Homo sapiens: one gene and its partner. The protein of the gene in region 1 purifies or fractionates together with the protein of each later gene. This does not show direct contact. Each region holds a gene or a part of one and is shown on either strand. Other genes may lie near its edges.

What was found.
Region 2: the proteins of TOM1L1 (region 1) and AARS1 fractionate together in Homo sapiens (co-fractionation; one large-scale study listed by BioGRID). This does not show direct contact.

What each region holds. Positions count from the first base shown.
Region 1 is NC_000017.11:54,914,051-54,917,871, reverse strand, and holds part of TOM1L1 (TOM1-like protein 1), read right to left. Parts: intron 3,234-3,821; coding exon 3,129-3,233; intron 2,127-3,128; coding exon 2,010-2,126; intron 1-2,009. UniProt on the Homo sapiens protein: Probable adapter protein involved in signaling pathways. Interacts with the SH2 and SH3 domains of various signaling proteins when it is phosphorylated. May promote FYN activation, possibly by disrupting intramolecular SH3-dependent interactions.
Region 2 is NC_000016.10:70,282,965-70,286,785, forward strand, and holds part of AARS1 (alanine--tRNA ligase, cytoplasmic), read right to left. Parts: intron 1-3,821. UniProt on the Homo sapiens protein: Catalyzes the attachment of alanine to tRNA(Ala) in a two-step reaction: alanine is first activated by ATP to form Ala-AMP and then transferred to the acceptor end of tRNA(Ala). Also edits incorrectly charged tRNA(Ala) via its editing domain.

The DNA of each region.
Region 1 (3,821 bases):
CATAATCCAGAAGACCATCCATAAATGGATCCCAAACAGCATCATCCCATGTTGCTATACCATACTCTGAAAATATTATCAAGCACAGCAGTAGCAATTACATCCTCCCTTCAGCATGGGTGAGCTGGGTCAGCAGAGAATGCAGACCAGCTGGCAGAGAGTCTCACACAAAAATGAGCTCACTATCAGCAATCCAGCTGAACACTGGAGAATGCAAATTAAAAAATGAACAAAAAATTTGCAAAGGAGAGTCCACAGAACAAACAAAAAAGCAGCGTTAAATATAATTATTATCCTTGGAAAGATAAAGAAAAGCAGAACCATGAAATGAAAGAACTGTTATAAAAATCCAACATATTTTAAAAATATTTTAAAATTATGTACATATTTGTATATAGTAAATATGTTTAAAGTACATATTTTTAATAGAAAGAAATTGTTGAAACATTTATTAGAAGGACTGAATAAGCAACTCAATTACAAGTTTTAGAGAAATACATTAAACAGAGAAATTATCCCAGAACTTAGAATGAAGAAATGAAAAGTATAAAAGAAATGTTAAGAGACAAATGAATCCAACTGGAAGTTTCATCGTCTTAAAGTTCCATAAGAAGAGAATAGAAAGAATGGTAGAAAGTCAATATTTAAAGTAGGAGCTGAGAATTCCTAGAATTAAAAATACACATAAGTTGATAAGGCAAAAAAGCCTATCATCTACTAAGGAAGATAAGTAAGTTAAACAAACATCTGCACACATGTACATATATCTCTTCAGAGGGAACAGTACAATTTCTGAAATATTAACGTAGAAAAATAACAAATGCAACTAGAAAAAAATATTATTAATCAAAGGATTAAGAAGCAGAATAATATAATACTTCTATCAGCATTAGTGGGTGTAAGAGAACAGTGAAGCAGTATCTTCAAAGGCCTAGAATTTTGTGCCTAGAATTTTATATCTAGCTAAACTAACCTGCATTTAACATGACAATCAGAGGACATTTTTGGATATGCAAGCACTCAAAGTTTGCACCAAAGTTTACCAACATGGGTGTACTGCAGCAAGGAAAAAACAAACTATTCACGACAGCAGTGATATCTAAGAAACATTGTTGGGAAAATTTTTACAATTTTTTTGTTTCCCAAATAAGAAATGAGCAAGGAAAAAGTTATTTACTAACAATCTAAGAAGTTAAAGGAAAAATAACATGAGAGGTGGCGAGTGGGAATCTGAGAAAAGTAAAAATATCTTAAGCTTCTTAACTTGGCAACAAAGGGACTTAGAAACTAGAAACTGATTTTTTTTTCTAACTGCTTCTAAAATTAATAAGTTTTAAAATTTAAAATAATTAGAAGAGCAAACTGGTAGAGGGAAAAATAAAGTATATGTATACACAGACATAGCAGAAGGCATAGGAGGGCTGTAGAACTACTCATGCAGGTCTAAATGCCCTGTCTACTTGTTCCTCTATAGCTCGAGCATTGCCTCCATCTAGACCATTCTTAAAAACCTCACATCTCTCCTTCTCCCCACCCATGATCCCACCATATACTGAACAAATTTATACTACAGTATCTATAATACTTCATTATGTTTGTTGTTTACAAACCAATCTTGCTCATTAGGCATAAACTCTTAAGGACTAGAATAGCCTCCTTCTCATTTCTACATCCCTTCCTATATCACAGTTACTCAATGTTTGTTGAGTGGATGAAAATAGAGGCAATTTTTACATACTTAAAACAACTAGAGAATTGATTGTACATGACCAAGGTTATAACTTATAATAAATTATTTGTTGCAAGAGGCTAAAAACCATGTCTAAGTTACTACTGCATTTCTGACAAAGTCATTCTTGGATATTTTTGTTAAGTTTAGAAATCAACTGAAATCAGGATGTAGGAGGATGTACTAGACAATATTAAGGTGTCTTCCATCTCCAAACTCAAAGTTTAGAGAATAACTTTAAGAGACACTTTGACTGATAGTCCCTGAAATCGTACAACACCTGCAGAAGCTCTATGTCTTCATGGTTTTCAGACCCAGGAGTATTCTCCATCAATATGGCGGACATCACTCGCACATTCATTTTCACCATATCCAATTCACTGTGCAGTTTTCCAATCTGTAGAGAGCAACACAATCACCAGTCAGTGCGACACACAAAGAATAACTACCTTGTTTCCTGCCCCCATGGGACATTTGCTGGATGAAAAAATGCTTTTGCAAAATTTAATATTTTCAAACTTAAATTTAATTTCATATAAATATACATATAGTTATTTTACAAATGTATACCTTGTCACCTTCTAAAAGGACTTGAGATCTCTTGTAATAAACCCCAAAATATGCTTTAGGAATTTTAAAAATGAAAGGAAAAAAAAAGATTAGAACCCAATATGGAGAGGGGAGAAGTACCAGGTACCTAGCAGAAGAAGGTACCAGAAACCTGGATAAAATGGCAAAAGTTATCCTGAGTTTCTTGGCAACCAATAGGGTAAAAGAAAAACAAATGAGGGTTATCCAGTTCTCATGGTATTAAAGAAGAAGGAATAAAGAAACACCTTTTCTTCCTGTATTAAATTCTAAGAGGAATTAGTCACATGCATTTTTATATAAGAAAAAAATAATACAACAAAATCTTCAATTATAGTTCCTTTACAGCAGAACGGAAATTAGCCTCATATAATAATTGTTTATCGGTACCTTGGATAAACTGATATACACAAAGAAGTAAATACAATTCAGTTGGCATAATAAATACAAGTAATAAGACTACCATTTACTAAACTCTCTGAAATATGTGACAGTCCTACCAGAAGTAACAGGAATTAGCTGATGGACCCTAGATCCAGTCCACAGTCAAGGCTCCAGAAAGCCATGAAAGCCGCTAGGCAAGCACAACTCTTACAAAGTTGGGCTTTGGAAGCAGACAGAACCCATGGGATTACTCCTTCTTGGAACTGAACTATGGTAAGTCACATAGTATTACTAAGCCTCAGTCTCTTCCTCTGTGAAATGAGTGTACCTACATCTCAATGTTGTTAACCAGAAAAGACAAACTGTATATAAGGTGCTTACAAATCAGGAAAAGACATCAATTAAATGCAATGATTGTTGTTGTTACCTGTTCTGGGACCAATGTAACAGTCGAGTTCTTTGGAGCAATTACAGAAGAAAGAGCTGGTGCAGTAGGGACAGATGTTGGAGGATTTGATGAGATTTGAGCAGTCTATGAGTATGAAACATGGTAATATTATTATGTGAATTAACATAGCCACCCAACGCCAAGTTTTTTCCATTCAGCTAACTCAAGCACTCTCAAAGTCCTGTGTACAGGGTATCTGCCCAGAGTAAATCATCAGCTACACAACCCGTCCAGCATTTTGTGAAGAATGCTAAGCAAATGACATGCCCATAATAAAGCAGGTATTCAACAAAAGGTGGCTATTAGGATTATCATTTACAATTTAATAAAATGCCCTTTTTTTTTTTTTTTTAACCAAGGGTCTAAGTGATAAACTGCCATGTGAGATTATTGATGCCTTCTCTTTGGGTTGTTAATAACAAATGGTAGCTCAATTCATGTCAAGTCCTTTTAAGCCACAGCTGACAAGGCATCTCCTTCTCCATCAATGACCCTCCTTGGGTCAATGCCACATCTCCAACCTTGGGTGGAGAGGTGAAAGCTCAAGGCTCTAGGCCAGTGCTTCTCAACATTAATGTGCAGAGAAAACACCTGGAAATCTTGTAAAAAGGGAGGTTCTGATTAGTCTAGGGTGGAACATGCCAAACAAACTTTCATACTTTTAGTAGCAAA
Region 2 (3,821 bases), on another chromosome or scaffold:
CATCTGTTCTTCCTTCCCATGCCAACCTCAAGAGGTTCAACACCCCAGCACACCAAGCACACTGCTGCTGGATGTTTGTTCATTAAACAAATATGTATCGAGCATCTGCTCTGTGTCAGGCCCGAGACTAGGAATTAGAAAAAAAGAGGGACAGCCAGGCACGATGGCTCACGCCTGTAATCCCAACACTTTGGGAGGGCAAGGTGGGCAGATCACAAGGTCAGGAGTTCAAGACCAGCCTGGCCAACATGGTGAAATCCCATCTCTACTAAAAATACAAAAAGTAACTGGGCATGGTGGTGCGTGCCTGTAATCCCAGCTACTTGCGAGACTGAGGCAGGAGAATCGCTTGAACCCAGGAGGTGGAGGTTGCAGTGAGCCAAGACCACACCACTGCACTCCAGCCTGGCGACAGAGAGAGACTCCGTCTCAAAAAAACAAAAAAAGAAGGAAAAAAAAAAAGAAAAAAAGGGGGAGAAAAACCCTCAGTTTAGTCCAACTGGGGAAGAGGGAGAGAGGCTCAGGAGACCGGGGTTTGAGTTCTAGCTTCAAGTCCTGAGGGAGTCACTTCACCAAAAAAAGGAGGGGTCCATATGAGATTATCTCTAAAGATCCCTTCAGCTCTGTGTTAATGTACACGCCTAGAACTGCAAAGTTCCACTAGCCCCAAAGTCAGGGTCTCTAGGTTTGGCCTGATGTCATGGTGAGGCGGCTGTCAGCAGCAATAGTCCTGGGGATGGGCCTATCTGTACAAGGGACCACCTGTATGTAGCAGGAATGTACCTACCTCTATGTAGCCTACATCCCCCAAGAACCCTAACAGCAAACGGCTGCCTTCCAGCCATTAGATTACCAGGGAGTGGGGATGCTGTAGCCCCACTTTGGAGGCACAGCTTACTGAAAGTGAAAGTACAAGGGAACTGGTGGAGAGAGAAAAAACTTTATGACTTCAAAGCTCTTTCACAAGTTGGGCGCGGTGGCTCACGCCTGTAATCCCAGCACTTTGGGAGACCGAGGTGGCAGAATTGCTTGAGCCCTGGAGTTTGAGACCACCCTGGGCAACATAGCAAGATCTTGTCAGTACAAATAGTAAAAAAATTAGCCAGGTGGGTGGATCACGAGGTCAGGAGATCCAGAACATCCTGGCTAACATGGTGAAACTCTGTCTCTACTAGAAAAAAAATACAAAAAATTAGCCGGGCGTGGTGGCAGGCGCCTGTAGTCCCAGCTACTCACAAGGCTGAGGCAGGAGAATGGCACGAACCCAGGAGGTGGAGGTTGCAGTCAGCCGAGATCGCGCCACTGCACTCCAGCCTGGGTGACAGAGCAAGACTCCGTCTCAAAAAAAACAAAAATGGCCGGGCGCGGTGGCTCACGCCTGTAATCCCAGCACTTTGAGAGGCCGAGGCAGGCGGATCACGAGGTCAGGAGATCAAGACTATCTTGGCTAACATGGTGAAACCCCGTCTCTACTAAAAATACAAAAAATAATCCGGGCATGGTGGCAGGCGCCTGTAGTCCCAGTTACTCGGAAAGCTGAGGCAGGAGAATGGCGTGAACCCAGGAGGCGGAGCTTGCAGTGAGCCAAGATCATGCCACTGCACTCCAGCCTGGGCGACAGAGACCTTGTGTCAACAAACAAACAAAAACAAAAACAGCTCTTTCACAGATATTACGATTTCCCTGAGAGGTAGGCTGGGGAGAAGTGACAGGCTTTGGTGAGAGTGCTGATCACTGGCATGGTGCTGTAGTGCCACAAACTGCTGTGTCTAGAAAAATGAGAACCATCTTATTCACAATATTATCATTATTATCAAAAAGTCTCTGGAATTCCAGACCCAACCGTAACCTTAATTCACTTTTGCCTGAGTTCAGTTCCTTTTCTGTAAAAAAGCAGTATCTACCCTGCCTACTCAACTGAGGTGTTGTGAGGATCAAAAGCTATACTGTATTTGGAAGCAATCTATAAAATGGAAAACGTTACGCCACGTGCGGTGGCTCACACCTGTAATCCCAGCACTTTGGGAGGCCAAGGTGGGTGGATCACCTGAGGTCAGGAGTTGAAGACCAGCCTGGCCAATATGGTGAAACCCCATCTCTACTAAAATACAAAAATTAGCCGGGAATGATGGCGAGTGCCTGTAATCCCAGCTACTCAGAAGGCTGAGATGGGAGAATCGCTTGAACCTGGGAAATAGTGGTTGCAGTAAGCCGAAATTGCGCCACTGCACTCCAGCCTGGGTGGCTGAGGGAGACTCCGTCTAAAAAAAAAAAAAAAGGAAAACCTTGAAGGAACAGAATGGATAATATTACTTTTAAGTTGTTTAGCTGAAAGTTTTCTTCTTTTTTTCTGGTTCTGTCCAGACTGGAGTGCAGTGGGACAATCACTTAAGCAGCCTTAAACTCCGAGGCTCAAGTAATCCTCCTGCCTCAGCCTCCCAAGTAACTGGGACTACAGTTGCACACCAGCATGCCCAGTTAATTTCTTTTTTTTTCTTTTTTGAGACAGAGTCTCACTCTGTCGCCCAGGCTGGAGCGCTGTGGCGCAATCTCAGCTCACTGCAGCTTCCACCTCCCAAGTTCCTGCAATTCTCCTGCCTCAGCCTCCTGGGTAACCTGGATTACAGGTAAGTGCCACCACACCCAGCTAATGTTTGTATTTTTAATAGAGACAGGGTTTCACCATGTTCCTCAGCCTGGTCTCGAACTCCTGACCTCAGGTGATCTGCCAGCCTCAGCCTCCCAAAGTGCTAGGATTACAGGCATGAGCCACCGCGCCCAGCTAATTTCTGTTTTTGTTATAAATGGAGTATTGCCATGCTGCCCACGCTGGTCTCGAACTCCTGGCCTCAATCTCCCAAGGTGTTGGGATGGCATGAGCCACCATGCCCAGCCAAAGTTTTCTCCTTATGAGGAAAATACAATAGAGATGTACAAAGTGAACAGGAGATCCTGACTCCAGCTACTTTCCAAAAGACACATGAATTTCCCATTTTTGCTTACTAATTCACCATAATGAATGCATACTATGTGCCAAGAATCAAAATGAATGACAGCCTATGTCCTTCCTGAGGAGACTATCATATGCAGAATTAACTGCAGTATTGTGTAAAAGGACTGAATATATTAACTATGAGTCTATGAAGGCTGAAACTATTAAAAGCTGTATCCCCACATTCATTTGTTTACCCCCATTTATTTATTCAATCTAAATTTATATTTATTCGATATAAATTCAATATATTTATTCAACATAAACTCATTGATTTATTCACTGGAGGGCTATATGGGATACAGAGGTAGCACAAAGGCAGAACCTCAGGTTTCACTTACTAACAGGAGCTGTAAAGGTCTTGGGTGCCTTAAATCACGCTGTGGCTCCAGCCACTCCACAGGAATTTTTTTTTTTTTTTTTTTTTTTTGAGACAGGGTCTCCCTCTCTGTCACCCAGGCTGGAGCGCAGGCAATGGTGCAATCACTTGGCCTTCCAGGCTCAGGTGTTCCTCCCACCTCAGCCTCCGGAGTAGCTAGGACTACAGGCATGTGCCACCAAACCCGACTAATTTTTTTGTATTTAAAAAAAATTTTTGAGGCCGGGTAGGGTGGCTCACGCCTATAATCCCAGTACTTTGGGAGGTCGAGGCGGGTGGATCACAAGGTCAGGAGATCAAGACCATCCTGGCTAACACGGTGAAACCCTGTCTCTACTAAAAATACAACACAACAAAAAATTAGCGGGGTGTGGTGGCACGCACCTATAATCCCAGCTACTTGGGAGGCTGAGGCAGGAGAATCGCTTGAACCTGGGAGGCAGAGGTTGC